4 linked regions of the Homo sapiens genome follow. The main gene of each other region encodes a partner of the protein of the gene in region 2 in a complex. Each region holds a gene or a part of one and is shown on either strand. Other genes may lie near its edges. The genes, in order: POLR2K, POLR1B, POLR1E and POLR1C. A codon is read from its position in the direction of its gene.

What was found.
Region 1: the proteins of POLR1B (region 2) and POLR2K are in contact, whole or in part, in a cryo-EM structure (PDB 7OBA), measured with the Homo sapiens proteins. Residues at the interface, in NP_061887.2 of Homo sapiens: Val87, Ile92, Cys93, Lys94, Glu95, Val98, Ala101, Glu102, Gly105, Arg106, His159, His160, Gln704 (codon at 871), Asp705 (codon at 868), Val793, Phe794, Gln805, Asp808, Asp809, Asp810, Leu812, Pro813, Phe814, Ile815, Gly816, Ala817, Lys818, Leu831, Val848, Asn851; in NP_005025.1 of Homo sapiens: Met15 (codon at 5,515), Tyr17 (codon at 5,521), Gly20 (codon at 5,530), Glu21 (codon at 5,533), Ser30 (codon at 5,967), Arg31 (codon at 5,970), Asp32 (codon at 5,973), Pro33 (codon at 5,976), Ile34 (codon at 5,979), Arg35 (codon at 5,982), Cys39 (codon at 5,994), Gly40 (codon at 5,997), Tyr41 (codon at 6,000), Arg42 (codon at 6,003), Ile43 (codon at 6,006), Met44 (codon at 6,009), Tyr45 (codon at 6,012), Lys46 (codon at 6,015), Lys47 (codon at 6,018), Arg48 (codon at 6,021), Arg51 (codon at 6,030), Val53 (codon at 7,413), Val54 (codon at 7,416), Phe55 (codon at 7,419).
Region 3: the proteins of POLR1B (region 2) and POLR1E are in contact, whole or in part, in a cryo-EM structure (PDB 8A43), measured with the Homo sapiens proteins. Residues at the interface, in NP_061887.2 of Homo sapiens: Lys254, Ser258, Phe259, Ser260, Tyr262, Gln263, Gln266, Ser295, Thr296, Gln297, Ser338, Thr340, Glu341, Ala532, Cys535, Pro541, Ile542, Asp543, Gly544; in NP_071935.1 of Homo sapiens: Gln27 (codon at 2,243), Ser29 (codon at 2,237), Asn30 (codon at 2,234), Gly31 (codon at 2,231), Tyr69 (codon at 1,061), Thr76 (codon at 1,040), Leu79 (codon at 1,031), Lys80 (codon at 1,028), Cys81 (codon at 1,025), Leu84 (codon at 1,016), Cys85 (codon at 1,013), Met109, Gln110, Pro111, Leu112, Phe113.
Region 4: the proteins of POLR1B (region 2) and POLR1C are in contact, whole or in part, in a cryo-EM structure (PDB 7OBA), measured with the Homo sapiens proteins. Residues at the interface, in NP_061887.2 of Homo sapiens: Arg713 (codon at 844), Gln715 (codon at 838), Lys761, Ala762, Glu765, Arg766, Gly767, His770, Tyr774, Gly816, Val848, Arg872, Pro874, Glu900, Asp901, Phe904, Glu906, Gly908, Lys967, Gly970, Tyr971, Asn972, Phe973, Tyr974, Arg978, Tyr980, Ser981, Gly982, Ile983, Ser984; in NP_976035.1 of Homo sapiens: Ala70 (codon at 690), Asn74 (codon at 678), Arg77 (codon at 669), Arg78 (codon at 666), Leu81 (codon at 657), Ala82 (codon at 654), Gln102 (codon at 329), Asp103 (codon at 326), Glu104 (codon at 323), Ile105 (codon at 320), His108 (codon at 311), Leu112 (codon at 299), Lys220, Asp221, His222, Ala223, Thr230, Ser232, Tyr233, Arg234, Leu235, Asp281, Thr282, Phe283, Ser284, Glu286, Arg289, Arg301.

Annotation. Positions count from the first base shown.
Region 1 is NC_000008.11:100,145,884-100,153,638, forward strand, and holds the start of POLR2K (DNA-directed RNA polymerases I, II, and III subunit RPABC4), read left to right. Parts: upstream 1-4,752; 5' UTR 4,753-4,826; intron 4,827-5,463; 5' UTR 5,464-5,472; coding exon 5,473-5,533; intron 5,534-5,940; coding exon 5,941-6,033; intron 6,034-7,410; coding exon 7,411-7,433; 3' UTR 7,434-7,755. UniProt on the Homo sapiens protein: DNA-dependent RNA polymerase catalyzes the transcription of DNA into RNA using the four ribonucleoside triphosphates as substrates.
Region 2 is NC_000002.12:112,566,454-112,573,467, reverse strand, and holds part of POLR1B (DNA-directed RNA polymerase I subunit RPA2), read right to left. Parts: intron 6,711-7,014; coding exon of another isoform or gene 6,573-6,710; intron 5,502-6,572; coding exon 5,331-5,501; intron 4,723-5,330; coding exon 4,566-4,722; intron 907-4,565; coding exon 710-906; intron 1-709. UniProt on the Homo sapiens protein: Catalytic core component of RNA polymerase I (Pol I), a DNA-dependent RNA polymerase which synthesizes ribosomal RNA precursors using the four ribonucleoside triphosphates as substrates.
Region 3 is NC_000009.12:37,481,159-37,488,947, reverse strand, and holds the start of POLR1E (DNA-directed RNA polymerase I subunit RPA49), read right to left. Parts: upstream 3,001-7,789; 5' UTR 2,901-3,000; coding exon 2,825-2,900; intron 2,716-2,824; exon of another isoform or gene 2,508-2,715; coding exon of another isoform or gene 2,246-2,507; coding exon 2,142-2,245; intron 1,086-2,141; coding exon 1,009-1,085; intron 1-1,008. UniProt on the Homo sapiens protein: Component of RNA polymerase I (Pol I), a DNA-dependent RNA polymerase which synthesizes ribosomal RNA precursors using the four ribonucleoside triphosphates as substrates.
Region 4 is NC_000006.12:43,512,337-43,520,088, reverse strand, and holds the start of POLR1C (DNA-directed RNA polymerases I and III subunit RPAC1), read right to left. Parts: upstream 3,001-7,752; 5' UTR 2,980-3,000; coding exon 2,911-2,979; intron 2,784-2,910; coding exon 2,712-2,783; intron 757-2,711; coding exon 649-756; intron 384-648; coding exon 251-383; intron 24-250; coding exon 1-23. Other genes in the region: protein YIPF3, read left to right, coding at 3,282-3,362, 3,994-4,200, 4,388-4,494, 6,456-6,501, 6,638-6,730, 6,889-7,020, 7,215-7,328, 7,526-7,649. UniProt on the Homo sapiens protein: DNA-dependent RNA polymerase catalyzes the transcription of DNA into RNA using the four ribonucleoside triphosphates as substrates.

The sequences.
Region 1 (7,755 bases), on a different chromosome or scaffold from region 2:
TCCGGCTCTGCAGCGCTCCCGCCCGGCCGCCCGCAGGCCTGGGTCCTCGCTTGAGCGGGAGGAGCGCCCCCTCTCTCGCTCACCCCTGCACCCGTCCCGAGGCGGGTCAGAAAGGCTCTGCTTCTCCCCATTCCCACTTTGGGAAGCATTACCGTATTTAGGAATGCTAACGTGGCCTACAGTGGGATGCCATTAGAAATCATGTATGAGAATGTTCCCTTGGAAATGATTCTCCAAACTGTCAAGTGCAAAAAGCAAGTTACAAACTGACCCCTTTTAGGTTAAAAATATGGATATACACAGGATGAGGTCTGAAAGGTATGAATAACTTGGATACGGTAAATTTGTACAGGATTATGTTTGCTTTTTAGTTCTTTTTATCTGTGTTTTCTTCTCATGTTTCAACAATGAATATATACAGATTTTGTGATAAAAAAGCTGAGCCGGGCCTGGTGGCTCACATCTGTAATCCCAGCACAGAGGTGGGAGGATCACTTGAGCCAAGGAATTTGAGACCAGCCTGGGCAACATAGTGAGACCCCCATCTCAAAAAAAAGATTTTTAAAAAATCTATTCATAAAAACCAGAGTGAAATGTGTTCATTGTTTACAAACATCCATTTTTGGGCATCATGAACTCCCAAGTACCCTCAAAGCCAAATAAATTTTTTAAACCCTAATTTTTTCATTCAATAAATATTTACTGGGCGTCTATTATATGCCAGGGACACTCCTGCTGCTCTTGGCAGCTTCTTCCTAGTCTCCTTTTTCTGGCTTCTTTTCCTTGGCCTACTCCCTAAATGAGAGGTCCTACCTCAGCATTTTTATTAGTTTATCATCCCATGCTTATGTAATTCTTATTCAGAACTTCAACCATCACTTTTAAGCCAATAACAGGCACTACCACCACTCTTCTCTGACTGGACATTTCTCCAACTGGATGTCCCTCAGTCATCCAAAACCAAACTCACTAAAATTATTATGAGACAGGGTCTCGCTCTGTCACGCACGCTGGAGTGCCGTGGTGCAATCTTGGCTCACTGCAACCTCCACCTCCCAGGTTCAAACGATTCTCCTGCCTCAGCCTCCCGAGTAGCTGGGATGACAGGCACCCGCCACCACGCCTAGCTAATTTTTGTATTTTCAGTAGAGACGGAGTTTTGCCAGGTTGGCCAGGCTGGTCTCGAACTCCTGACCTCAGGTGATCCACCTGCCTCAGCCTCCCAAAGTGCTGAGATTACAGGCATGAGCCACTGTGCCCGTCCACTAACAGTTATTAAATTCCAACTATGTGCCAATTACTGTGCTAGGTACTGGGAATACAGAGCTGACACAGCCACAGTTACTGCTGTTAAGGAGCTCATTGGTATAGAGCAAGTGCTGTAACAGAGGAACAGTAGCAGCACAAAGGAAAGAAGAACCAGCTAACTCTACTGGAGAACAGAGTGCATGAGATAGATTTTGATGTACAAGTGGCAATTTAAAAGGCAGACAGCAGGAAATTCCAAACTTAAAATGTATAAGGGCAGGAAAATTTCAAACTCAAAACAAAATGTGCAAGAGCAGTTGGGCACATGGAGAAGCTGCAAATAATTTGTTATAGGCAGAAACTAAGAGTTGTTAGAGGAAAGGATTAGAGAAAATTCCTGAGAAGTGAAGAAGCTAAGTCTTGGGAAGTTCTGGTTGCACCTTCAGAGTTTGAAGAGCATTTTAGAAAGTCCACTCTGGTGGCAGAATGGAGGACAGAATGAAGAGAGGCAAGGGTGGCTGCTAGGAGACCAGTAGGAAGCTACTGCATTTCTCCAGAAGGCAGTGGGGGGTGGAGCAGAACCAAGATGTGACATGTTCAGTTGGCAGAATCAACTGCATGGGGCAAGGAGTGAGGGAATGAAGAGTATAGGCTTGGGAGAAAATAAGATGCATTTAGTGTGAGGTTGTTAAGTTTGAGGTACCTGTAGGACTGTAAAGAATTAATGAATTACACATTCTTCAAGACAGCACCTCTCTGAAGCCTACCCCCACACTCCCTGGTAGAGTGAATAGTACCCTCTCTAGCTCTTCAAACAAATCTCTATTACAGCCATTTTACCCTTTCCTGCCCCACATTTGCAATTCTCCTGCAGAATTCTACTGAATTTTCTCTGTGTAGTTTACTACCTTCTAAAATCCCATATTATCTACTCATTTTTGTTTAATGTCTGCTCCCCATCTCCATCCCAATGTAAACAGGGCAGGGAATTTTGCCAATGGTTAAGTAGAATCCACATAACCCCAAAACCATTTAAACATTGCCCTTTTCTTTTTTCTCCAGTTAATTTATTTTTCTTGAGATATTTTATTATGTCTGAGGAGTGAAAGACTATATCATATCTCCTTTATATTGTTCAAGGAAGAATCATTGTCACCTCTCCCCACCTAAAAACGGGCAAAAAGACACCTAGTTATATGTAGTTTGCCTGAGCTTTACTTACATACTCCAGATTGAAGCCACTGAGCTGTAATTTCATATTCTTTACAGTCTTTTGCCTTTTTGCTTCCCTTTTTTTTGAGACAGAGTCTCACTTTGTCACCCAAGCTGAAGTGAAGTGGGGCAATTTCAGCTCACTGCAACCTTCGCCTCCCGGGTTCAAGCGATTCTTGCACCTCAGCCTTCCAAGTAGCTGAGATTACAGGTGCATGCCACCATGTCTGGCTAATTTTTTGTATTTTTAGTAGAGACGGGGTTTCATCATGTTAGCCAGGATGGTCTTGAACTCCTGACCTCAAGCAATCTGCCCGCCTCAGCCTCCCAAAATGCTGGGATTACAGGCGTGAGCCACGGTGCCCAGCCCTTTGCTTTCCTTTCTTGCATTGGGTGTCATCCCATCACTAATTTCAGAACTCTAAAACCCACCTGCTTGCCACAAAATCTGATGCTTCTTTTTGGGACCATCCAATAAAACGTAATGGGAGATTTCCCAAATTACCATGATATTCAAGCTATCTGGATATATTTAAGTGAATATAATCAAGGAAAAAGGAAAGACAGAGATTCAGGGAAAAAATAGCAACTTGCATCTCCATAACCTTCTTAATAAAGAGTTAAAAGCATTGTTTTCCAGGATGGCAAGACAACTACCCCCATTAAAACAGAGCAATGCAATGATGTCTGGCATGTAGTACATGCTCAGAAAAAGTTAATGCTATCATTGATAATAGTGTAGCTTACACTGACCAAACTCCCAAGTGATCCTAGAACTACCAGTCTCTGTTGATAGGAAAGAGCGTGTTGGATTGGGAACTAGCACCAACATGAATTCTTGTTGAAATTCTGGATCTTCTTGCTATGACTTGTCATTACTTTGCCCTTTTGTAGGGCCCCAGGACCCATTTGTATTCTACATATGTTGATCCATTCTGATCTCCATAAATTGTTCTGCACGAGAATTATCTTGATATTTCAACTGGAGAGTTAATATACAAGAGAGCTTGTAAATATGAAAGTTTGACTTTTGGGATCACTCTGTCATCTTTCGCTTAGGATAACAATGGTTCCATCTAATAGTTCTTACAGGGAAGCCTATTGTGCCTCTTGTATTAGATCACCTCTTTGGTTAAGAGGAGAGGTACTTTGTAACAGGGCTAATGGTTAAAATATTTATGCTCTGTTAGCCTGTCTGTGAAGAAAGAAGCCAGGAACTGCTGCGTTTTCCTGAAGGGTTTTTAAATGGCATCTTCCTGGAAAGATCAACTTAAATCTCTCAAGCTGGTCTGGGGAGATGCAACAGAAGGAGTTTGAACTTCTGGAAGTGAAAGGTGAAGCTCAAAGTTCTCAGATTTCTGGATGGAGGGCCCGAAAGGAGTATAACCTGCTTAATAAAATATCAGACATAGTGCGTGTTGGGAGAAAGAACGCCTACTTCTTTCACTAACTTTAAAATAGTTATTAACAATTAAGTTATTTTTAAATTTTTTAAAATAGCTTCATTTTCTTCACCCTACTAAGTAAAATATCTTCTGGAAAAAAAGGAAACAAATGTAAACGTTCTGAACCCAACTGATCCATCATACTGAAATTCTGATACTTGAAAGAACGCACCTCCACTGAGCAGGGCGTTTTGTTCTTCTATGGTGGAATACATAGAACGGAGGGCGGGTGAGTAGACAGCGAAAGCTACCAAAATCTCTTAGATTTAAGAGGGAGTTGTTCATGTAGCTACCGTCACACTAACCTTTGCTTTAAAACAAGTAAACGGATTGGGCGAGGGATGTGACAGTAGCCTATCAGAGAAGGGGCCAGAAAGCAAAAACAAAATCAAGAGAAAGGTAGGAGGCAGCTGCCCCACTGCCCCAGTACAGATATCAAACAATTTTTAAAAACAATCTGGAAAAGTGTTTTTCTACGTGAAAATCATTGGTGTAGTCGATTCTTCTATGTTCGTCCGAGTAACGGCTATCCTAGTACTTCTCGGACACTGTCATCTCGGTTTTTCTTCTAACCCTCTACCCTTCTGGAAAAGTGTTACTTTGTACCACTACATTAGTCAGAAACACACACCGCCTTGTACTTGCATAACTGTTAAAATGCTCTGCTTTCCTGCAAAATTAAAATAGCTGGGGACCAGGCACTTAAACCCGTAGAATCTAATAGACAGAAAGCCCCTGCTTTACCGCCTTTGCGCCATCCGGGTTGTCTGGCCACGCCTGGGGCGGAAGGGGCGGGGAGTAAGAGAGAGAGAAAGAGAGACAGCACTGTGCGTCATGTACCAGCGCCGGAAGTTGGTCTCGACACCTGGACTAGCCGGGTTGTATTTGGAAACGCGGAGTGAGTTTTTCCGTGCTGTGTAGGTAAGCGAATTGGCGGGTTGGGGTTTGTGGTGGATATTTGGGCCAAAACTGGAAAGACACTTGGGGTAAAAAGGTCCGGTATGGGGGTAGAGTTGAGAGTGGCTGGGGATACGGTCCATGCTATCGCTCTTTTCCCTATTTTCTTTTAGTTTAGATGTTTAGCCAGTAGGAGTTATTTCATTGTTCTTCCCTCGGTGAGCCTGTTCCCCTGTTGAGGGATATAATTTTTTTTGGCTAACTTCTGCTAGAGTTTGGGAAAATAGAACTTGTGTTAAACGAGAACGCGAGCTTTACAGTCAGATCTGTATCCCTTTGACTTTTAGTAGCTGAGTGATCCTGCGGAAATTAACATGTCTAAGTATCGGTTGCGTCCTCTGTAAAACAAGAGTGATGTCTCCTAGGATTGTTATGAAGATTATAATGGCCTAACACGTATGAAGTAGTTATTATGTCCAGTTTGGGGTAAACGCTCAATACTTGTGTGTATGCGTTTCGTCCTTGAGACCTAACCCATAGGATTTGGGGAAAGGAACAGATTAGGAATTGGATCTTTGTAGCTTTTCCTGAGAAAAATGGGCCCGGATGGACTTGTGAGAAGCCCTTTTGAGATATTCAGTATTTGAGTCTGTGATTTCAGGGGCTAACAATGGACACCCAGAAGGACGTTCAACCTCCAAAGCAGCAACCAATGATATATATCTGTGGAGGTAAGAGTAGCACTTACCTAAAGTAAGAATATTTTATTTAAGTTTTTTTGAAATTGTTACATTTATTCTTTGCTTAAATGAGTTACTGGTCTTCAGAGTTATAAAGTAGAACACTTTAGCAACCATAAAAAAAATCGTTGAGGTCAGTAGACCTGGGTTCGTCCTTGGTCTTCTGTTTACTAACAGAAAAAAACAAAGCTCGTTGAGATTTCATTCTCTCTCCTGGAAATATGCATGGCCTACAACCTTTTTCTTTCCTATTTAATATATTTAATAAAAGCAGCAGACCCTTGAGATTGAGTATATTTTAGTGTTTTGGATTGCCTTAGGTAAATAATACATTTAAGATAATTTGTCTGTAATATTTTCCTCTTAGGCATTGAGTAAATTTTTTTTTTTAATTCTAGAGTGTCACACAGAAAATGAAATAAAATCTAGGGATCCAATCAGATGCAGAGAATGTGGATACAGAATAATGTACAAGAAAAGGACTAAAAGATGTATCCTTTTAACGATGCTTTCTAAATATGAGTTAGGAGGAAATGAATAATGCTGGGGTTGATAAAGATTAATTTCTGGTTAAAATGATAACTTTCTGGATTACAGTACTTAAAAAACAAACATGATTAGCATTTTCATGGACCAATGCATAGGCTCTAAATAATCTAAATAATGCTAGTTGATTTTGGTTCTCATAAATTTATTTTTTAGGGATTCTGTGCAGTCAAGCTTGAGGATAGGGATACATTCTGAGAATTGTGTCCTTAAGCAATTTCATCATTCCTACAGAAACCTAGACCGTATATCCTACTATACATACACATCTAGGCTATATGGTATAGCTTATTGCTGCTAGGCTACACACCTGTACAGCATGCTATTGTACTGAATAGACAATTGTAACACAATGTTTTTGTATATCTGAACATAGAAAAGGTACAGCAAAAATAGAGTATAATCTTATGCGACCACTGTTTATATGTGCTCCATCTTTGACCAAAACGTCATTATGGGTGCATGACTACATTTATATAAGTATTCATTCTTGAGCTTCAGTTTATGGACAAGCTAAAGTTCACGAGGAGAAATACAAATATTGTGTATACTACCTAATGGAAAAAGTTGGGCATACAAATTGTTCAAATACTGAGAGTAGGCCCAGCATGGTTGCTCACACCTATAATCCCAGCACTTTGGGAGGCTGCAGGAGTTCAAGACCAGCCTGGGCAACATAGTGTGACCCCCATGTGGAAAAATAAAATACAGAGTAAATTGTTATGATACAACTAACACACATTGTAAATCGACGGATTATCCGCTTTAACATTACTTTAGTGTTTTTTTTTGTTTGTTTTTTGTTTTTTTTTGAGACGGAGTCTCGCTCTGTCACCCAGGCTGGTGTGCAGTGACGCAATCTCGGCTCACATTGCAAGCTCTGCCTTCCGGGTTCATGGCATTCTCCTGCCTCAGCCTCCTGAGTAGCTGGGACTACAGGCACCCGCCACCATGCCCGGCTAATTTTTTTTATTTTTTAGTAAAGATGGGGTTTCACCATGTTAGCCAGGATGGTCTCGATCTCCTGACCTCGTGATCCGCCCACCTCAGCCTCCCAAAGTACTGGGATTACAGGCGTGAGCCACTGCGCCTGGCCTGCTTTAGTGTTTTTTGATACATTTTATGGAAAAGGTGGTAATAAAAATTGAAAGTGTTTTTAGTTTATTTAAAAACCAGTTGTCATAGTAAATAGTGAATTCCATTCTTTTTTGCATTTTAAGTTAAATAACAAACCAGCTTATTGCAAAGAGAAAGTGACTTTGAAACCTTCAGTCTTAATAATGTTTAAGTACCGTTTTTGTCCTTAACTCAAATTAATACAGTGGTCGTTTTTGATGCTCGATGAATGCTGGGAATTCAGAGGAATGTCTTCACTTATACTTGGATTTGCTCTCTTCCCATTTCTGATTGTTGTATAGCTTTCGATTTTGCTTACAGTAGTTCCCCCTTATCTTCGGGAGATACATTCCAAGGCCCCCAGTGAACTCCTGAAACCTCAAACAGTACCAAACCTTTATACACTGTTTTTTCCATATATATATACCTATGATAAAGTATAATGTATAAATTAAGCATAGCAAGAGATTAATAATAATGTAATAGAACAATGATAACATACTATAATAAAAGTTATGTGAATGTGGTTGGTCTCTCTTGCTTTCAAAATA
Region 2 (7,014 bases):
GCATCACATTTTAACTTTCCTCACATTTTCCAAATCACTGATACTAACTACAAAAACCCAGACATGGCTGGGCACGGTGGCTCACGCCTGTAATTCCAGCACTTTGGGAGGCCAAGGCAGGTGGATCACTTGAGGTCAGGAGTTCGAGACCAGCCTGGCCAACATGGTGAAACCCCATCTCTACTAAAAACACGAAAATTAGCCAGGCATGGTGATGGGTGCCTGTAGTCCCAGCTATTCGAGAGGCTGAGGCAGGAGAACTGCTTGAACCCAGAAGGTGGAGGTTGCAGTGAGCCAAGATCGTGCCACTGCACTCCAGCCTGGGCAACAGAGCGAGACTCCGTCTCAAAAATAAAAAACAAAAAACAAACAAACAAAAAACAAGAAAAACAAAAACCCAGGCACACAGAAATAGCTTAAAATCTAATCATACTTAAATATAAAAGGTAGATAGATCCAAAACCAAACTTCAAAATTTACTCATAATATGCACTCAAATATGCAAGACATACGTGTATCTGAATATTTAGTGGATATTCCTCAAGGCTTGCCCACTTTCAACTTAGACTAAGAACTAATCATTTAATAGAACATCACGTGCCAAATACTAGGTACTTGGGTACACAAAAATATTCCTTCAGTGATTTCACAGTAAACAAACAAGTTAAAAAATAAAAAGATTGGAACAACATTTCCTGGTAAAACTTACCATGGCATCTTCCATATCATAGCCAGTGTAAGAAATCACAGCAACGATGGCATTGGTCCCAATTGGATAGTTATCCATGTCATAATAATCATACATGGAGGGTCTCACCAAGGGACTCTGAGGAGTCTGAAGACGATACAGTTTGTTATCCGATCGGTCTTGATAAGTGAGAAGTGGAAAGCCCATAGTTTGCTTACCTACATGGAGAAAAAACATCTTAGCATTTTCTGCTGCTTTCATCTTGATTATAGGTGTGATACGCAACACTGGAAACAACTAAATATCCATCAGAGGAAAATGAACAAATAAATAGTCATGGTAGTTATGCTTACTTTAGACTAATACATAAGCTGTGAAAATGAAGTAAACCTAAATGTATCAACGTGACCAGACCAGGAAAACCATGCTGAGTGGGAGAAAGTGCAGACTGACATTTAATATGATACGATTTATGTGTATTTGCAACACACCCCAAACAATTCTATACTTAGTTTATGGATACATGTATGATGTAATAAAAGCTTTAGAAGGGGACAGAAAGGAAGTACGCAAATTACAGGCTATCACTACTCGGGGAAGAAAAGGGGATAGGAATTATTACGTAATTAGATTACTTTCTTACAGCGGAATATGTATTTAATTCTAAGTAGTGGAGCATGGGGTGAGATTCCTCTGTGTACTACCTCACAGTACAGAGAATCATTTCACGACAAAATGATTTTAAAATATAAATACATACAAGTGAAATTTTTAAAAAAATTATAGACTTAGAGCTTCCAGTAATAAAGGGCTACTCTTACTAGACCACCCTCAACACATAAGTATGAGACGCAGACCCCCAACTACACATACAGCACTGGAGAGTAACCAAAAGCTGTCAGAAGCTGAGAAGAATTTTTACTTGGACAAAAGGAACACACTGGGTGAATTTCCAGGTTTTTAAGTATTTATGTATTTATTTTTGCCTTATGGCCCAGTGTGGCAGCTACAACTTAGATAGAAACCCACAATCTTACTGGCTTGAAGAACCAAGAAATAGAGTTCTGAGCATGACAACAATTGGGAAGGGGGAACATTTCAGAAATGAGAGAACCACAAAGGGAGACCCTTAAATTCAGCATATAAATTGGGTCCGAATCTTTGGTGGACTCCTGAACTATGCATGCATGGGACAGATCACAGCAGCCCACCTAAGGCTGAAGAATGTACTTCAACTGCCACGTTCACCAAGTTAAGTACCAGTGAAAACTAAAAACCAATCCTCTTCCCCTGGAGAATTTTTGGTGACATGCACTGAACCAGGTGATGGACTGTGTATTAAGAAGGAAAGACATAAAATGAAAAAAATTAAAATGTAATTGAAGGCCAAACACCACACTAAAAACAAACAAAACCAATCCTCTTCAGAGGACCCTAACAGGATCCAGGGTTTAAAACATACTCCTCGCAATGTTCATAATACAATCCGATATTACTGGGCATACAAAGAAATGGTGAAACTTGACTTATACTCAAAGAGACTGATACTAAGATGACCCAGACATTGGAATCTGCAGATAATGATTTTACAACACCCATCATATAAAACTATGTTCAAAATATAAAGGAAAACATGCCCACAATGAATGAAGATAAGAAATCTTAGAGAAGAAAGAAACTATAAAAAAAGAAACAAGTCAGGCCAGGCGCAATGGCTCATGCCTGTAATCCCAGCACTTTGGGAGGCTGAGGCAGGCAGATCATTTGAGGTCAGGAGTTTGAGACCAGCCTGGCCAACATGATAAAACCCTGCCTCTACTAAAAATACAAAAAATTAGCTGGGCATGGTGGCACATGCCTGTAATCTCAGCTACTCAGGAGGTAGAGGCAGGAAAATTGCTTGAACTGGGGAGGCAGAGGTTGCAGTGAGCCAAGATCGTGCCACTGCACTCCAGCCTGGGTGACAGAGCGATACCCTGTCTCAAAAAAAAAAAAAAGAAAAAAAAAAGAAACAAGTAGAAGTGCTGGACTTGAAAAATACAGGCATGCACTGCATAACAATGTTTTAGTCAATGCAGGATGGCATATATACTATGGTGATCCCATATTTTTACTGTACCTTTTCTATGTTTAGCTACACAAATCCTTGCCATTGTCTTACAACTGTAGACAGTACACAGTACAGTTACATGCCACCCAGGTTTGTAGCCTAGGAGCAACAGGCTATACCATATACTAGGTGTGTAGTAGTCTCTGCCATCTAGGTTTGTGTAAGTTCACTCTATGATGTTCACACTACGACAAAATCACATATGACTCACTTCTTCGAAGGTATCCCTGTCGTTAAGGGCACATGACTGTAAGCAAAAATTCAGTAGAAGACAGAATAAAAAGTGACTGTGATAATAGGTCAATAAAAATAATCCAATCTGGGCCAGGTGCAGTGGCTCACACCTGTAACCCCAGCATTTTGGGAGGCTGAGGCAGGCAGATCACTTCAGGTCAGGAGTTTGAGACCAGCCAGGCCAACATGGTGAAACCGTATCTCTACTAAAACACAAAAATTAGCTGGGCATGGTGGTGTGTGCCTGTAATCCCAGCTCCTCAGGAGGCTGAGGCAGGAGAATTTATTGAACATGGGAGGCAGAGGTTGCAGTGAGCCGAGATTGTACCACTGCACTCCAGTCTGGGCAACAAAGTGAGACTCCATCTCGGGAAAAAAAAAAAAAGATCCAATCTGAAGAAAATAAAGAAAAAAGAGAACAGAAACTCAATGTCTTATGGAACAATATCAAAAGGTTTAAATATATGAATAACTGATAGAAGAGGAGGAAAGAGAGAAAAGGATAGGAGCAATGTTTTTAAAAATAATGACAGAAGAGTTTAGCAATTTAATTAAACTGAAAAAAAACAAAATTTGAGGCCGGGCGCAGTGGCTCACGCCTGTAATACAGCACTTTGGGAGGCCAAAGTGGGCAGGTCACCTGAGGTCAGGAGTTCGAGACCAGCCTTGCCAACATGGTGAAACCCCGTCTCTACTAAAAATACAAAAATTAGCTGGGTGTGGTGGTGAGTCCCTGTAGACCCAGCTACTTGGAAGGCTGAAGCAGGAGAATCACTTGAACCCAGGAGACAGAGGTTGCAGTAAGCCGAGATCACACCACTGCACTCCAGCCTAGGCGACAGAGCGAGACTCTGTCTCAAAAAAAAAAAAAAAGAAACACACTATATTCAGAAGACTGCTGCCTTCTAACTAGAAATGACAGAGACTAAGAAGAGACAGTGTAACAACAACTTTTAAGTGTTGGAAGAAAAATAACTGTCAACTCAGAATTGTATATCCAGTGAAAGATTCCTTCAAGTGAAGCAAAATAAAGACATTTTCAGATAAATGAAAACAAAGAGAATTTGTGGCCAGCAACCTGCACTATAAAAAAATGCTAAAGGAAGATTATCAGGCTGAAGGAAAATTGTATACAATGAAAACTTGAATCTTGCAGCAGGAATGAAGAGGACTGGAAGTGATAAATATGCGGGTGACTATAATTGCTTGTATTCTTCAAAAAATCAAATAATAAGACCTCAGGCACACCCAAATCTATGGACATTCTATACCTTTTTCTTCAAAAATGTCAATGTCAAAGACAAAGAATGTTTAAAGATCTGTCATAAATTACAGGAAACTAAATAGACATGCCAACTAAATACAATGAGTGATCCTGGGCTGGTTGCTTGTGGCACAGAAAAAAGAAAAACTTGCCATAAACTGTATTTTTGGAACAAATGGTCAGCATATGTAAATAAGGACAATAAAAGAGTGTGCTAGTATCAAGTTTACTTTCCTGATTGTGACTGTAACATCATCCCTCTTCCTTACCCATCTGGCATTGGTACATGTTCCGTGGACTCTGGTTGTGATCAGAGAAAGGGATGAAGTTGGCAATCACACTCAGCAGGCTGTGTGGAAAGAGTTCCTGGTGTGTGGTAACTCCAGCAAAAACTTCATCCTCAAAGATAGCGACATTCATGAAGATCTGGAAGAGCAGATGTCCAAGGCACAAAATAACTGCAACTGGTTACACATTTACTCTTACCATTTCTCAGAGTTCAGTACTCAAAGACTCAAGAGAAAACCATCCCCACCCAGCATCATGAGTGCTGAAGGGATCAACTGGGAAGCACAGGGAAGCGACCAGTTAGAAATACCACTTGCTTTACGTATCTCACTCTAAAACTACCCCAGACCAATTGTGAAGGGGAATAGGAAGAAAAATTTTTAAGTAGCACAAAGCCTATAATTTTGCAACTGTAAATATGTAGGCAAAGACTGAGTGTGAATCTAATGGAATGTTTTCACTTCACGGCTGAGGCAGAGCCAGGTACAAAGGAGTTCTGGGAGCTAGATAAGATGGGAGGCAGGTAATGTGACCACCAGCCCTCTCTCAGGTTCTGTGGAGTGAGATCAGACATGGAAATTGCTCTGTGCTGATCATAGAGGAGGTGGAAAGTCTGACTTTCTTTCAAATGTCCAACTGTTGTTGTAACATTAACAACCCTTTTAAAAAAGGAAGAGTTAAGTCTCTGAAAGTTGTATACTATACAAACAAGCACATACACTCATCCATCACACATATGTATTTACCTGTTCCATAGTTCCAATTAGCTCTTCTTTGCCCAATGCTAAGTTCTGCACAGGCCGTACCAGTCTACAAGGAGTGGTAAAAAGGAACAATCCTGGGTACAGACTTGGTTTTCCTGTCATGGGTATAAGGACCACTTCCATCCAGGGAGGAATTCTTTTCTCTCTCAACACCTGTTTTTAACAAAAACAGAGTTTAACAAACCTGTCCCAAGGCCATGGCTGTCGCTGCCAGTCTTATGCCCCATGGAATACCACTCATCCACACTCAGCCATGGTAAAAGCCCTACTTCCTTGGGTGCTCACCCCAGCTAGTAGGCAAATCACTAACTACTGAGGCTAAGGATAAAGCACACCATGAATGCACGTGTCGATACACTAAAGGAAATTCTGTCCTCTGTGATCTAAAATACAGTAGATTACTGGTTTTATTTGTAAATTTAATAAACCAAAAACTCATGGGTGGGCCGGGGGTGGCTTATACCTGTAATCCCAGCACTTTAGGAGGCCAAAGTGGGTGGATCACTTGAGCCCAGAGGTTCAAGACCAGCCTGGGCAACATGATGAAACCCCGTCTCTACAAAAATTAAAAAATTACCTGAGTGTGGTGGTACGTGCCTGTAGTCCCAGCTAATCGGGAGGCTGAGGTGGGAGGATCACTTGAGCCCAGGAGGTTGAGGCTGCAGTGAGCCATGATCATGCCACTGCACTCCAGCCTGGGTGACAGAGTGACCCTGTCTCAAAAACAAAACAAAAAAACTCCAACAAACTCCTGGGTGAAAGGAGAAATAAAAACCTAAATTACAGAAACCTGAAAACAACAACAACAACAACAACAACAACAAACCCATGTGTCAGAACTCATGGGGATTCACAGCTAGATGCATTATCATTAAAAATGAGAGAATGTTTGGTGGAGGGGGACACGGGGAGATGTTGGTCAAAGAGTATAAAGCTTCAGTTATGCAACAAAATTAAGTTTCTGGAGATCTCATGTACAGCATGTGACTATAGTTAAGAATACTATATTGCATGCTTGAAATTTACTAAGAGAGCAGATCTTAAGTGTCCTCATCCTCCGATGCTCCACAATGCTAACCAAAAAAAAGAGAATGAAAATAAATTCTCTATAAAAAAGATAAAATCTGAGACTAATGAGGCAGGTAGCTCATTTGAGGTCAGGAGTTCGAGACCAGCCGGGGCAACATGGAGAAACCCCATCTCTACTAAAAATATAAAAATTACCCAGGCATGGTGGTGTGCACCTGTAATCCCAGCTACTTGGGAGACCGAGGCAGGAGAATTGCTTGAACATGGGAGGCGGAGGCTGCAGTGAGCCAAGATCACACCACTGCACTGCAGCCTGGGCGACAGAGCGAGACTCTGCCTCAAAAAAAAAAAAAAAGAGGAATGATTGTTTAATGGTTACAGAGTTTCAATTTGTGATGATGAGAAAGTTCTGAAGATGGTGATGACTCCACAACATGAATGTACTTAAAACCCTCAACTGTACACTAGATCAAATCTCATACACTTTCTGAGCATCAAAATAAGTAGTAACAGAATATTCACAAAATTAAACAAGCATCTATAAATCTACGCTAACATAAATAAATGAACAACTAATAGAAAAGAAAGCCCTCCCTTACAGAATAGCAACTAATAAACATAGAAAAAATGCTGGTGG
Region 3 (7,789 bases), on a different chromosome or scaffold from region 2:
GTTCAAAAGTTCTCAACCTTCTCTCTGCCCACACACCTGAGGAATGCATCATCTACTCATGGGTAACAATAATCTCCCCTACCCCTACCCCACAGCAATTCTCTGCATAGAGAGGGAATAGGAAAGGATAGGATGGGATGGGAGGATATGAGGTGGTTCTGGGAAAAAAAAAAAAGCTACTAGGTGATTCTGATAGTTGATCACATTTGGGCTCACTGCGGTAGTGTAATGGAAAACTCTTTTGGGGTGTACGAACCTAGAATTACACTACAATTTATGGCACAACAGTTTTATGGAGGCAAAATCAAGTAAACGGGGAGGAGACCAATTGGAACTAGGGCATCTCTGAGAGGGGAGAGTGCAGGGTTAATAGTTCTCAGCACCTATACACCCATCTGACCTCTCCTCTATTGGAGTATGGTCCACCGGGGCTCAGAAAGGGCCTAGTTTGTAGTTCATTGTTGGGTACCATCACAGGGCCCTGTCTGCATCATGCCAGCCCCCGAGAGTGATACAGTTCAGGCTGGACAATCTTCACTGTACAGAGGGGGAGGCTGGGGGTCAGTGATGCGCAGAGTTACCCAGCCACTCAGTCAATCAGCAGCACAGCTGGATGGGAATCCCAGGCTCCTCTTTCCCAGTCCAGAGCCTTCAACACTACCAAGTTCTTTACCTGTCGTTAGTTCCCAGGTAAACTTCACGCAAGCTTTGACCTACTAGTCACACATTCCAAATTAATGGAGAGACCTGCCTTTTGGAATAAGACAGCTATAAATAAACAAGATTACAAATGAATGAGGTTTTTAGGAAATTCAAGTTATCTTTCCTTTCCAGCAACGTCTACACGTGCAGGGAAGGGCTCTGGGTCTAATAGGAACACAGGGATCACCTAGTAAACCTCTCTAGATGGCTCCTGCTACCCTTAAAACAGACAGGAAACAGCAGTGCCAGTGCTGCCACCACTCCCAACCCCATCACCCTTCCCACTGTCCCTTCCCCTGCCATTACCTGCACAAAGTGTTGCATTTGAGGGCTCCAGTCCCAAAATTGTTTCCCACATAGGAGAGCCTATCTGTTTCAGCTGCCTAAAATGCAGAGAGGGGAAACTCCATTTACAACCAATGTTGAAAGGTATTAAGCATCATTTCTCTTTTCTACATTTGCTGAGGCTTTTGAATCCAGACTCACAATGGATTAGAACTAGTTCATCTCTGGCAGATGATCCAGCCCCACTATCTCTAAGGGAATATGGGGTGTCCCTGCAGGGGAAGCAAGACGACTTCTGGAAGAGAAGCCTCAGATGGTGCTAGCTTCTAAATGGTATGAAAAGCTCTTGGGGGAATTCTGCCACAAGACTTGAGAGAGAGGCCCTGGGCTTCTGGCACTTAAAGGTATGCAACAAAGTGATTCTGTAAGCAATCTCTCTTTGGCCTGTTCTTTGTATACTCTCAGGACCATGGCTGATTCACTCCCCAATCATAAGCAAGCTTTCCTGCTTCTCTGCATTTGTCCTCACTATCCTTTTCACTCGAAACACCAAACGTTGACTGCCAAACCCTCATTCCAGCCTTCAAGGCTCAGCTCCAACATGACCTCACCAAGGAAGGCATTCTGGCAGAGACCTCTCCTCCCACTGAGCTCACTCTGCCCTGTACTCTTCCCCACGTGGCCTCAGAGCTTTGTGTAAAAGTGTCCCTCACAGCCAGTTCTCATCTCTCTAGAGCAGAGGTTCTCAATCCAGGGAAATCCACTCTGGTGCTACTGGCATCTAATGAGTAGAGACTAGGGATGCTGCCCCCACAGCAAAGAATTATTGGCCCAAAAAGTCAATAGTCCTGAGGTTGAGAAACCCTGCTCTAGAGTATGAACTCTGAGTGGGGCTAGGCCTGATTTGGCTGTTTTCCTAGAAGCTTGCAGCACAGGGATGCAGAGGGGCAGGTTCCATAAATGCTTGTTGAAAGAACAAATGAATGAAAGATGGAGCCTGTCCCCACATCCCAGGCTGCTGGGCATCAGAGTTCTTCAAAGCTCCATTTGCTACTACTCCCCTTTTTCTCCCCTCACTCCCTCCCACATCCACCCACTCCCAGGGGCCTTCTGAGCCCTGCAGAGTGGAGACAGCTGGCAACTGCTTCACTTACCAGGATCCGTTGATTCCTCTTCCTGGGGTTGGTGGAATCTTTGTTCTCATACAAGGTAAAGCGCATGTTGCCTGGACTCTGTAGCTTCCCGTTGGAGAACTGGACTGTAAGAGTGCAGCCCAAGAATGAGATGAGAGCAGAAGGCCACACAATGTACCACACAATGTACGGTGGGACTAGACTGTCACTGGGAGGGAGTGTCAGAATGGGGATGGCAAGGAAGCTCGGGTCCTGACCCAAAGGGAACTGGAGGAGATCCGGGGCCAGCTGAGAAGAGGAGGTAGGGAGGTGGGAGAACCCTGGGGAGGGGCTGTGACAGGAGGGAATGTCTCGCGGAAGGAGGCTGACAGCAGAGGCCTGGTACATACCTAAAGTGACAGAAGGAACCCCTGCCCAGTGAAGAGAGGGAAATGGGGGAGGCGGGAGACCTGGTGGGTGAGGGGGTCAGCAGGGTCCTGGACACAGCTCTGGGGAGCGGGTGAGTGGGATGTCCCAATCTGGCTGGGAGGTAGTGACAGAAAGACGGACAGGGGAGCCCTGACAGAGCCCAGGGGAGTGGTGGAGACTAGAGGGGTCCCGGCCCCGCTGGGGAGAAGCCCAACGGAGGGCGAGAGGACAGCTGAGGTACCGAGACGGAAGGGGAGAGGGTTAGAGGAGCACTGCTCCAGCTCCGCAGTCTTTACCCAGTACAGCTCTCTGGCTCCCGTCGGGCGCCCCACAATACTGCCACCTCGCACTCGGCAACACCTCCGCCGCCATCTCGCCTGTCTGTCCGCCAAGCACAGGAGTTAAGACAGCAGCAGCCACAAGCGCACTTTTAAACACGCGGGAGCCCAGGCCGCGCTGCGGGCCGGAAAAGGCGTGGCCCCGCCGGGCACCGCCCACAGCGCGCGAGCCGCGTGTCCCCGCCCCCCGCGTAGAGAGGCGTGGTCTCCGCCCACAAGGTGCCACACACCCGCTTGACTGGCCGAGGCGCAGCACCTGATTGGCTCAGCGCTCGCGTGCACTCTGGGTTTTGTAGGTCCAGAGCCCGAGGCGCCAAAGGCTTCAGCCTAAGCTTGCTATGAGCCTTCTTCCGGCTCAGCACCTTCTAAAGAGAGTGTCGTCTCTCTCTCCTACCGTGACAAACTCATCTTCCCAAGACCTGAAGGACCAAGTTCAAATTTAGAATTCTCTGACAGGAACTGCTTGAGCCCCAACTAAATGTGGCCGCTGGCGAATAGCCGCCCCTCTCTAGGGCTTCCCACCCACCCACGTGGACATCCAGCTCTAGGTACAAACTTTGTCCACAGTCCGACAAACAGCTCCCCGCCATGGGCTGTGGCGTGCACACCTGTGGCCCAATCAACACTGAGGTGATGGAACAGAAGCCCAGCCAACCCCGGAGCCTTTGGGCAGGAGATTCTGGACTGGAATAGAAGAGGGAGTCCGAGCTGATGGACATGTCCCTTTTTCACTGCGGATTCAACCCTTCTTCTGCACGGGGAGTTTTCAGAGCAGAAAGAAGGCGAAAGCAGGGCCTTTAAGCATGGACGCTGGCCGAGGCCCCCTTTGCCCAAAGATGCGTACTATTGAAGGGCAAGAACTCCGGTTGACTCCCCTCTGTCTTCCAAATCACCTTCTTTCAAGACTCTTTTCCTTCCACACACCCTCAACACCCGCCTCCAACACCCAGGATCCTAGGAATAACCCTAAAGCCTGCATGCCCCTTTGCCTGAGCACTTGTCACGCTTTTCTAATTACCCAATCTCAAACGTAAAGAAACACTGCAAGAAATGTTTTTGCCCTGAACCATTTAGAGTAAGTTGTCAACCTGATACCCTTTCAACCCTGAAGACTATAGTATTTCCTACAGACATTCCCTAAATAACAACACAGCCATCAGAATCAGCAAATTGCCGGGCGCAGTGGTTCACGCCTGCAATCCCAGCACTTTGGGAGGGAGAGGCAGTTCTATCCCTTGATTCCAGGAGTTTGAGACCAGGCTGGGCAACATAACAAGACCCTGTCTCTACAAAAAATAATATTAGCCATGTGTGGTGGCGCACGCGTGTCGTCCCAGCTACTCGGGAGGCTGAGGTGGGAGGATTGCTTGAGCCTAGGAGGCAGAGGCTGCAGTGAGCTGTGATGGTGCCACTGCACTCTAGCCTGGGCGACAAAAAAAAAAAAAAAAATTAAACAGAAAAGAATCAGGAAATTAGCACTGGTACATTACCACCATGTAATCCTCACATCCCATTTAAGTTCACCCATTGTCCCAACGTTTGTTGTTAGTTTGTTTTTTGAGACAGGGTCTCACTCTGTCACCCAGGCTGGAGTGCAGTGTTGCAACCAGGGCTCACTGCAGCCTTGACCTTCCAGGCTCAAGTGATCCTCTCACCACAACCTGGGAATACAAGTGTGTGCCACCACACTCAGTTTTGTTTTGTTTTTTCTTAATTAAAAAAATTTTTTGTAGAGACTAGGTCTCACTGTGTTGCCAGGGCTGGTCTCAGACTCCTGGGCTCAAGTGATCCTCCCACCTTGGCCTCCCAAAGTTCTGGGATTACAGGCGTGAGCCATTGCAGCTGGCCCAATCATGTTTTTATAGCAAAAATGTCCTGTCAAGAATCATGTGTTGCATTTAGCTCTCATAGCCTTTCCTCCCTTAGAAGGCTACCTTGCTTGACCCCACCTCATGATTTTGGATTGAATTGTTCAGGAAAGGAAAAGGGAAGAAGAAGAAAGAAGAAAGAAGGATGAAGAAAGAAGAGCTTAATTGTGTGATTGTCTCACCCATTGATTGTTTCCTCACTAAACTTACTTGGGGTTCACAATAAACACTTTGGAGGTTAATAAACAAATTTATGTTTGTTTTGATCACTGCTTTATCTCCAAATCCTGAACATACTAGACCCTCAATAAATATGGAATGAATTAATGAATGACAGGGCAAAGAATGGGCCTGAATTATCACTAATCTTGGAAGCCTAGCACAGGGACTGGAACTCAAAGATGTTTGGTAATATTGGTTGAAATCAACTAGCATAGGGTTTACACATAACAGACTCTATAAATGTTTTTTGGTTGAATGAAAATATGAACAGTTAAATCAAAGTTAAAGGTGACCAAGATAACAGTGGCTACAATGAGCCAAGTATAGTTCTTAAGAGAAGTATCTTGTGATATAGGAACACATTATATGGCCTTGTTACTCATGATATAGGAACACATTGTATGGCCTTGTTACTCAAAGTGTGGTCCATGGAAACAGCAGCCTCGACAGCACCTGGGAACTTGTTAGAAATATAGGATCTCCAACCCTATCAAATCTTCTGCAACAGGATCTGCAGGTGATTCATGTGCACTTGAAGTTTAGGAATCACTGTTATACCGGACTGATTCCCCTTTAAGGCACATATTTGCCAGTCAGACAGATTATGTGCAAGTCCCCTGGATTGACTGTTTTGTAGCGAGGACAAAGAGTGAAGAGTACAACACACCCACTGAAGCAAAAACTCCTAGAATTACCACAGGCAAGAATTCCAAATGACGGAGATTCTATCCGTGGAAGCAAAGTGTTGATGGTCAGGCAGCTGGGAAGGGGATCATAGTATACCCCTGTGTTGTTTAATTATTTAACAGTTATTCAAAAGACACACCTATACACACCATGTACATATACATACGTGCCTGTGTAACTGGGATGGGGCAGGATGGAGGTGGGATGGGGCAGGATGGAGGGAGCCCTACATAGGCATTAACCAAAATGCAAAAACCTATAGTGGCCTCTTTTATTTTTTTATTTTATTTAATTATTTATTTATTTTTTTGAGGCGGAGTCTCACTCTTGTCGCCCAGGCTGGAGTGCAGTGGTGTGATCTGGGCTCACTGCAACCTCCGCCTCCTGGGTCCAAGCAGTTCTCCTGCCTCAGCCTCCTGAGTAGCCAGGATTACAGGTGCCCACCACCACGCCCGGCTAATTTTTGTAGTTTTGTTAGAGACAGGGTTTCACCATGTTGGCCAGGCTGGTCTCGAACCCCTGACCTCAAGTGATCCACCTGCCTCAGCCTCCCTAGGTGTTGGGATTACAGGCGTGAGCCACCACACCTGGCCAGGTGGCCTCTTTTATATTCAAATCGTGGATAATCACAGGCAAAATTTACCACATAATTTTTTTTGGAAATTTAGTTTGGAAATAATTCAGAGACACCTGGAGTTCTCTTTTAGTATCATTTTTCAGAGAAGGAAAATGGTTTTCCAGAGGGCAAAAGGAGAGGGAGAAAAGCAAAGTCCTCCTTTCCTGGGGTAATATCTCCATCTGCTGGTGTTTCAGGATAACACTAACAAAGACCTGAAAAGGCGAGTCAGATTCCATACTGTTTGCAGTGACTCGCCCTGTACTCTGGGGAATGGCTTCTTTTTTTTTTTTTTTTTTTTTTTTTGGAGACAGAGTCTCGCTCTGTCACCCAGGCTGGAGTGTAGTGGCGCGATCTCGGCTAACTGCAACCTCTGCCTCCCGGATTCAAGCAATTCTCCTGCCTCAGCCTCCTGAGTAGCTGGGATTACAGGCGTGCATCACCATGCCCGGCTAATTTTTGTATTTTTAGTAGAGATGGGGCTTCACCATGTTGGTCGGGCTGCTCTTGAACTCCTGACCTCGTGATCCCCTGCCTCAGCCTCCCAAAGTGTTGGTATTACAGGCGTGAGCCACCGCGCCCGGCCGAGAATAGCTTCTTCTGTCTCACCTCTTCTCTTCCTTTCTTGTCCCTCTGCTTCTCTTTTTCCTCCCTTCCTTTCTCCCTCTGTGTTTGTCTCACTCTCTTGTTCTCTCCTCTGGTCATTCCCATTCCTTTCCTTCATATCCCTGATGCAGACCCTCTTTGCATACCTACACACATGGATGACTCACTCCTTAAAAGGTGGACTTCTCACCTTGAACAGGTTTTTTCCTTACATGGAGCTGACTCTACCTTCTGTAGCTTCTCCCTATAGCTCCAGTTCTTCATTCCGGGGTCATGCAGAACACAATCAGCTCTTCTTGCCTGTGCCCTTCAAAAGCCTGGAGACGTCTATCATGCTTTCCATGTATCTGTTCCTCTCCTCTCCCAGCCAAAATTATCCCTCACATACCAAAGTTTCTAGGTCCCTCCTCTTCCTGGTCACCTCTGCTAGACATATGCCAGTATATCTGGATCCTTCAGGGTCCCATACAGATCAGTACTTCAGCACTGGGCTGGGTAGCACAGAACAAGGAGAATTCATCACATCCCCTGTGCATTTGTTGTAAACATCTATACTGCTCAGTTAACTTACTGGGGTTAAGAATAAACAAAAGTTCTTAGCTTTGCTTCTGCTAAGTTATATCATCCTTGTAACTTTTTTGAAAAACAAAAATTCAGAGCTTTGTATTAAGGGCTGTTAAATTTACTCAAGTTAGATTCAGCCTGTTTATATATTTAAATTTTTCTGAATATGTATTAGATAAAAAACTTATCAAATAAATACATATTTGATGTTGAAAATACAGAAACATATTAATAATAAAATTACAGTAATCTATGATATCTTCCCCACAAAAAGGCAAAAATTATTCAATTTGGTTGTATTTCTTTCTAGTTTTTTTCTCTGTGCATATGCACATTTATATAATTGATATAATACTGTAT
Region 4 (7,752 bases), on a different chromosome or scaffold from region 2:
TATCTCTGTGCCTTCTTCATCTCCTGCACAAATGGAGGGAGCTCCTAAGAACTAGTAAACGTCTGAGTGCCAGCACTATGCTGAATGCTTTACGTGTTTCCCATTTAATTATGGCAAACTTGGGAGACAAGGCAAGTGTTCTCACAGATGAAAGACACTGATGTACAAAGATAAGTAACTTACCCAACATCACAGTCAACCAGGATTTGAACCCAGATAGTCCACTTCTCCCAAAATTTCATTTTCTCACCTTGGTTCCGATACTCAAAAAGACGGGGATCAGCATGAATGGGAATGAGCCCCAGACGGTGAGCAAGAATCTCATCCTGAACAATGGATGTATTATTGTACACCAGGACCTTCTCCACAGCCATAGTTGGCACCTGCCCAAGGAAAAATAACCACTTATCTGCAAAAACCCAACAGACCCCCTACCTATCCCCGTAACCCCAACCTCCAGAGGTAGGGAGCTATCTCTCTTCCTAGAATGTTTAATGAGAAATTTACAAAGAATGAGAAGGTAAAATGCTCAGCAAAATTCCAGGAAAATTAAGGAGGGAAGGACAGCTTGAGACACTTAATTCTCCAAGTGAGGTGTCAGTGCAGTTCCCAAAGCAACTCCAGCCTTGTCACCATGCCTGCCAATACCTCAGCTAGCAGAATTCGTCGAAAAGCATTGGCAATGGCTGCGTCAATTCCCACCATGTCAAACTCCAGTGAGTTTTCATCCATGTGTACTACATCCACACGGAAATTCTAGAGGGACAGGAAAAAACATTTAAGTGAAATCTGCTCTCTGTGTAATATCTCTTCATACCTCCCCCTTAGATAATTCCCTCAAGTATTATCCTCTCATCCAAAAACCTCCCTTTGCCCAAATGTCTCTTATTAAATATTCTATCTCGCCCAGTGTTTTAAGTTTCATGAAAAGTCTCCATTTTTGTCGTCCATTCATTAAAACCCTATGCAATATGGCTTCCAACCAAACCATCCACAGAAGCTATTCTACTGAAGAACAGAAACTACCATAGTGCTTAGTTTTGTTGACACTACTCAGTCCTCTTACTAGACTTCTGTTATGCTTGGCATTGATTAAAAAACCCCCTCCTGGCCCGGCACAGTCACTCACACCTGTAATCCCAGCACTCTGGGAGGCTGAGACGGGCAGATCACAAGGTCAGGAGTTTGAGACCAGCCTGGCCAGCATGGTGAAACCCCGTCTCTACCAAAAATACAAAAAATTAGCTGGGCATAGTGGCGCATGACTGTAGTCCCAGCTACTCGGGAGGCTGAGGCAGAACTGCTTGAACCCGGGAGGCGGAGGTTGCAGTGAGCCAAGATCGCGCCACTGCACTCCAGCCTGGGACATAAGAGTGCCTCATGAAAAGCAAAGAAAAAAATCTCCTCCTTTTTTGAACTATTCCCCTGGTTTCTGAGCTCTGAGCTCCACTCTTCTTCCTTCTCTGATGATCGACTTCCACCCATCTCTAAATTTGCCAGGTTCTTGTCTCTCTCCCAGGTCACCTTAACTGTACTAACAGTTTTAGCAACTATCTGTTCTGACAACTCCCAAAATGTTATCTCACTTCTGATCTCATTTCAAGCATGCAGTCTTCTAGCCTGCTAGATTTCTCCACATGCAGAAAACAATGCATCATCATTCCCGTTCCCCAGACCCATTTCTCCTCTCAGTAAATGATACCACAATGCATCAAAGCAGTTCCCAAGCCAAAAAGTCATTTTATGCTACCCCCACAGCCTTTACCAAAGCAATCATAAATTTACCTTCTATTCTACCTTTGCTCTATTTCTACCATCAGTCTTAGTTCATGTCTTCAACCTCAGCTTCCCTTACAACAGATCTGCCTGCTCCATATGATCCTCCTCAAACTCATTCCCTCCCAGCCACCAAGGTTGCAAATCTCATCATGTCTGCTTAAGAACTATTCAATCTCCCTATCATCAACAGTGCCCAAGACACACTTCAACCTTGCCTACCACTCATGCCAGAACTACTTGGACATGCCCGGAGCACACTTCACACAAGCCATAATTTTTTTTCAAGCATTAACCTTTTTCATTGTTCATACTTTATTCCTTGTATCAACAGGTTAAAAAAGTAAAATTTTCCCAAGCACTGATTTACAGATCATGTTTATAAGCTGCACGCAAAGGTCAGTTGCCTAAACGGTAACATTCAGTAATCTATTTAAATGCAATTTTAACCCTTATTTTAAGCTAAGTGAAACAATACAAAAGACTAAATACACACAAAACCTGTATATCCTGAACTTCACTGACTTGAAACAAACCCTTCATAATTTAACTCCTGTTCTTTTTTACTTACCATTCAAGGCTCAATTGAGATGTACCCTCCTCTTGAAATGTTAAGTACCTCTCCGCCCCTCTTCCTGGTCTCAGCGTAATGCTCCCCACCCCAACCCTGCCGTCTTCATCGCTATCAACCACCTTCACCATATTACACTAGATTCACTGTTTATACACACCATTCCTCAACAAGACTGAACATCTTTGCAGAACTGGGTAGAAACCGTGTCTAATTTGGCCTGTAAACGGAGCGTCTAGCACATTGCTCAACAAACTTACAAACGGAGCGACCCCCAAGAGCAGCTTCTGAGACAGACACAGGCTGCTCAGACCACAAGGTCTGGCCTTCATAACCCTCCCCAGACAACTCCGGCCCCACTTACCTTCTCGAAGCGGTCCTGGTCCCAGGCATCATCATAACCGGAATAGTTACCGGGAAAGTCAGTAGTATGGACCTAGAGCAAAGGGACGAATTTGTCCACGAAGGGACAGTGAGCCCACAGCTATCCCCACGCCAATCCCAAGACCCATCCCTGTTCCGCTCTCATTCCTCCCGCCCGAGCTCAAGGCCACAAGGCTTACATTGCGAACCCCAAACTCCCCCAGAACCACGCGGCTCCGCATTTCCTCCACCGCCTGAGAAGCCGCCATCTTCAATCTCTCCACGAGACTAGAGGTTCTATCTCGCGCGTGCGTCCTAGTAGCCCTGCTCCGTCTCCGTGGCAACGCACCGCCTCCTGGAATCTTAAATATCGCGAGATTTTTCCCCGCCCCCGTCCACGTCCCCAGCTTCCGGAAGTTGCTTTTGTCCAAACATCCGGGCTTCTCCTTTTTGTGTTCCGGCCGATCCCACCTCTCCTCGACCCTGGACGTCTACCTTCCGGAGGCCCACATCTTGCCCACTCCGCGCGCGGGGCTAGCGCGGGTTTCAGCGACGGGAGCCCTCAAGGGACATGGCAACTACAGCGGCGCCGGCGGGCGGCGCCCGAAATGGAGCTGGCCCGGAATGGGGAGGGTTCGAAGAAAACATCCAGGTAATGGCCCCAAGGCACCAGCTGCCAGCAGCCGGAGGGCCGGCGATGTCCAGAAGTGTCTTGGGGATTCCCCCTCTGGGCCTGGAAGTCCGCTCCATTTACAAAACTCTCTTCTTTGGGTCTTCGTGCACACTAAAGTCAGTGGGATTAACATTGACCTGAAAGGGCCAGACTACTACTCCAGCCTGAGGATCTCGGGTTTCAGGGCCCGCCCGAGGCATTAGGAAGAAGGTATTCTTGGAACAAGTTAGGAGGTTGGTCGGGGTAAGGCATGGAGTGGGGTTGGGTGGGATTCACTGGCATTCGCTGAAAACATACTATGTGTATAGTTTTGTTTGGGGCTTAGGAAAGAAGGAAATGGGCACTTTTTCAGCCTTTTAGTCTTTGATAGGTAACATAGGAGAAAGACATGAATGGAAGACTAGTAGGTTTCCCAGGCTAGAAAAGATAGCCAAAGCTAGAAACCAGGCGTTCTGAGAGCATATGAGGGGGAATGGAGTGGCATGATCTGTAGTGATTCCAAGCCGTATCCTCAGCAGTGGAAGAACAAAGCCCTAAACCCTGGGATGAGCAGAGGACTTAATGGATGGAACAGAAAAGTCCTGCACTCTAGGAGCCATTGTCTTCACAGGGCGGAGGCTCAGCTGTGATTGACATGGAGAACATGGATGATACCTCAGGCTCTAGCTTCGAGGATATGGGTGAGCTGCATCAGCGCCTGCGCGAGGAAGAAGTAGACGCTGATGCAGCTGATGCAGCTGCTGCTGAAGAGGAGGATGGAGAGTTCCTGGGCATGAAGGGCTTTAAGGGACAGCTGAGCCGGCAGGTGGCAGATCAGGTAAGCAAGATTGAATCCTCTGCAGGTAGAAAAGTAGACCTAGGTATGTCCCGTGTTCTGGAATTGGTGTTGGTGATGTTCGCCCCAGGTTGTCCAGTTAGAACCATGTAGAAATCAAACGGAAAATAGGCAACAGGATCTAGAACCAACAGTACCACAATACCTATGCCCATCTTCCTTACTTCAGATGTGGCAGGCTGGGAAAAGACAAGCCTCCAGGGCCTTCAGCTTGTACGCCAACATCGACATCCTCAGACCCTACTTTGATGTGGAGCCTGCTCAGGTGCGAAGCAGGTGAGGAGCCTTCTCTTGAAGAAGCTTCCCTCCTAACACCTAGACCTTCATGCACACTACAGTCAGATTTCAAGCCCTGGGCTCTGATGGGCTCCCCGTCTTCATGACCCCATCACCTCTCATCACTGCACCTGTCACTGAAACAAGTAATAATAGCACACCATCTTCCTCTTCTTTTCCATCTAACTGACTACTCATCTTCCCTCAAAACCTACCTCAGATGTCACTTCCTCTGTTCCACATTCCTCAATCCCATCCCCAGTTTGTTCTCTCCTGGTGTTCCTATAGAACTCTGTGCTTGCCAGCCGGGCATGGTGGCTCACGCCTGGAATCCCAGCACTTTGGGAGGCCGAGGCGGGCGGATCACAAGGTCAGGAGATCGAGACCATCCTGGCTAACACGGTGAAACCCTGTCTCTACTAAAAATGCAAAAAAAATTAGACAGGCGGGTGCCCGTAGTCCCAGCTACTCGGGAGGCTGAGGCAGGAGAATGGCATGAACCTGGGAGGCGGAGGCGGAGCTTGCAGTGAGCCGAGATCGTGCCACTGCACTTCAGCCTGAGCAACAAAGTGAGACTCCATCTCAAAAAAAAAAAAAAAAGAACTCTGCGCTTGCCTCTAATAGACAGCACTTCACCACTGCTATCCTTTCTTATTCCTGGAATCTTCCTTCCAGAGACCAACAGCATCTCAAAAGCAGGCTCTGTCTTGTTTATCTTTTTATTCCCAGCACCAGAACAGTCTCAGAATCAAAATATCAGGGCATAGTTTTTGAGTGACTTTTCAAGAACTAGATTTAATCCTGGCTTGGTTTTTTTGTTCATCCTTTAATCAATGCTAATCAAATACCCAGGACCACTCAGCAGGTATTTATTAAGCATTTGCTCTGTGCCAGACGCTAAACTAATCGTATCTGGTTCAGTGGTGAAGATAGATGGGAGCCTTGCTCTTGAGTGCAGTTACAGTACAGTACTCATTCTATGATGGGGCACACAGGAGGGATATGTGAGCCAAAGCAGGTTGGTGGGTGGGACAGGACAAGTTTCCCAGAGGAAGTAAAACCTAGCTAAAATCCCAGGTATGATTAGGAGCTAGCCACTTGAGAGAAGAGGGAAGTGACTAAATTTTCATACCACTTCACATATATTTTTCAAGAAAATACTCGAAAGTGCCTGGAGGCACAGATAAGCAGGAAGAGGAGGCGTTTTTACTATTCCCTCAGTAACACCTTTCATTCTAAACTTTCCATCTAGCCGGCTAGACTTTTCCCAGGGCTTCCTCATTATAACCCTGAATTCTGGGTACTCTCTGCTGAGGTCTGCCTGTCTTGTCATGTCTTTGTTTTGTTTTGTTTTGAGATGGAGTCGCACTCTGTCACCCAGGCTGGAGTGCAGTGGCGCGATCTCGGTTCACTGCAACCTCCGCTTCCCGGGTTCAGGCAATTCTCCTGCCTCAGCCTCCTGAGTAGCTGGGACTACAGGCGCCCGCCACCATGCCCAGCTAATTTTTTGTATTTTTCGTAGAGACAGGGTTTCACCATATTGGCCAGGCTGGCCTCAAACTCCTGACCTTGTGATCTGCCTGCCTCGGCCTCCCAAAGTGCTGGGATTACAGGCGTGAGCCACCGCGCCCAGCCTGCCTGTCTTTTCAAGGGGAGGGGGCAGACGGATACATGGTCGGGCCCTCCTTCAAGGCCCAGTAGGGCTGAGTTCTCCATATAGCTGCTGTTTCAGTCAGCTAAGTTTCAGAGGGTTGTCCTTCCTGGAAGTAACTTTAGGGGCAAGGAAATGATTTCCTCATTCCCTATCTGTCTTTACTACCCTGTTCTACCGTGTCATCCAACATGTCTTCTAGGCCAGGCCCCATTCCCTGGAGTTAGAGATGAATAAAATTCAGGCCTTGCCCTCCAGAACCTCATGGCCTTGTGCTGCCTTTGCTTTAATCTCTCCTCTCCTCTCCCAGGCTCCTGGAGTCCATGATCCCTATCAAGATGGTCAACTTCCCCCAGGTGAATAGAGGGTGGCATGTCTGGAGAGCCGGGGGAAGCACCAGGGCAGAGGGTGGGACCACCAGGCAAATCCTGGGAAGCCATAAACAGATGAGCTGTTGTACCCTCCAGCCTGAATGAATTGGTATATTGACAGAAAATTGCAGGTGAACTCTATGGACCTCTCATGCTGGTCTTCACTCTGGTTGCTATCCTACTCCATGGGATGAAGACGTCTGACACTATTATCGTAAGCAGGACAGACAACTTTGGGGGGGTGGCTGCACTAGGTTGAAAGCTGCCTGAGGATACAATGGTGGAGTGAGACAGGAACAGCCCCTGCGGAAGGCCCTAGGTGAGGCTGAGATCAGAGGCCTCCTAGGACTAAATAGAGCCTTCACCCCACAGCGGGAGGGCACCCTGATGGGCACAGCCATTGGCACCTGCTTCGGCTACTGGCTGGGAGTCTCATCCTTCATTTACTTCCTTGCCTACCTGTGCAACGCCCAGATCACCATGCTGCAGATGTTGGCACTGCTGGTAAGGAGCCAGGTGTGGTGGGCAAGAGTGATGTTAAAAAGAGTAGCCAGGCCTTGGTCGGCATCTGTCCTGGGGCCCCAAAGCCTGGAATGGGAGGAGTAGGCCAATGGACCATGTGTTTCCCAGGGTCCCCATGAGGGGCCAGAAAGCAGCCCAACCTGAATGATTTTCCTCTCCACCATCCTCCTTCCCAGGGCTATGGCCTCTTTGGGCATTGCATTGTCCTGTTCATCACCTATAATATCCACCTCCACGCCCTCTTCTACCTCTTCTGGCTGTTGGTGGGTGGACTGTCCACACTGCGCATGGTAAGCTGGGCAAGAGGCTTCCAGGGGTGGGCTGTCCTCCCAGGGAGTTGGGGAAGACAGCCTGGAGCTGTCCATCTCACAAAGAGCCCTAAATGGGAGGGAAGAGCCCAAAGATGGTTCTGCCCTGGGTGGGGGTGTCTTGTCCCCACTCCTCACTTTGGAGCCAGGCCCTTTGAGCTGTATTCTCATGGTCCTAGGTAGCAGTGTTGGTGTCTCGGACCGTGGGCCCCACACAGCGGCTGCTCCTCTGTGGCACCCTGGCTGCCCTACACATGCTCTTCCTGCTCTATCTGCATTTTGCCTACCACAAAGTGGTAGAGGGTAAGTGGCAGGAAGGTCTGGGTGGGGGAGAATGGGAAAGCAGCTGCCTAGAGCAAGAAGCTAGATATGATGGCTGGTGGGCTGGGCCCATCTGATCCTCGCT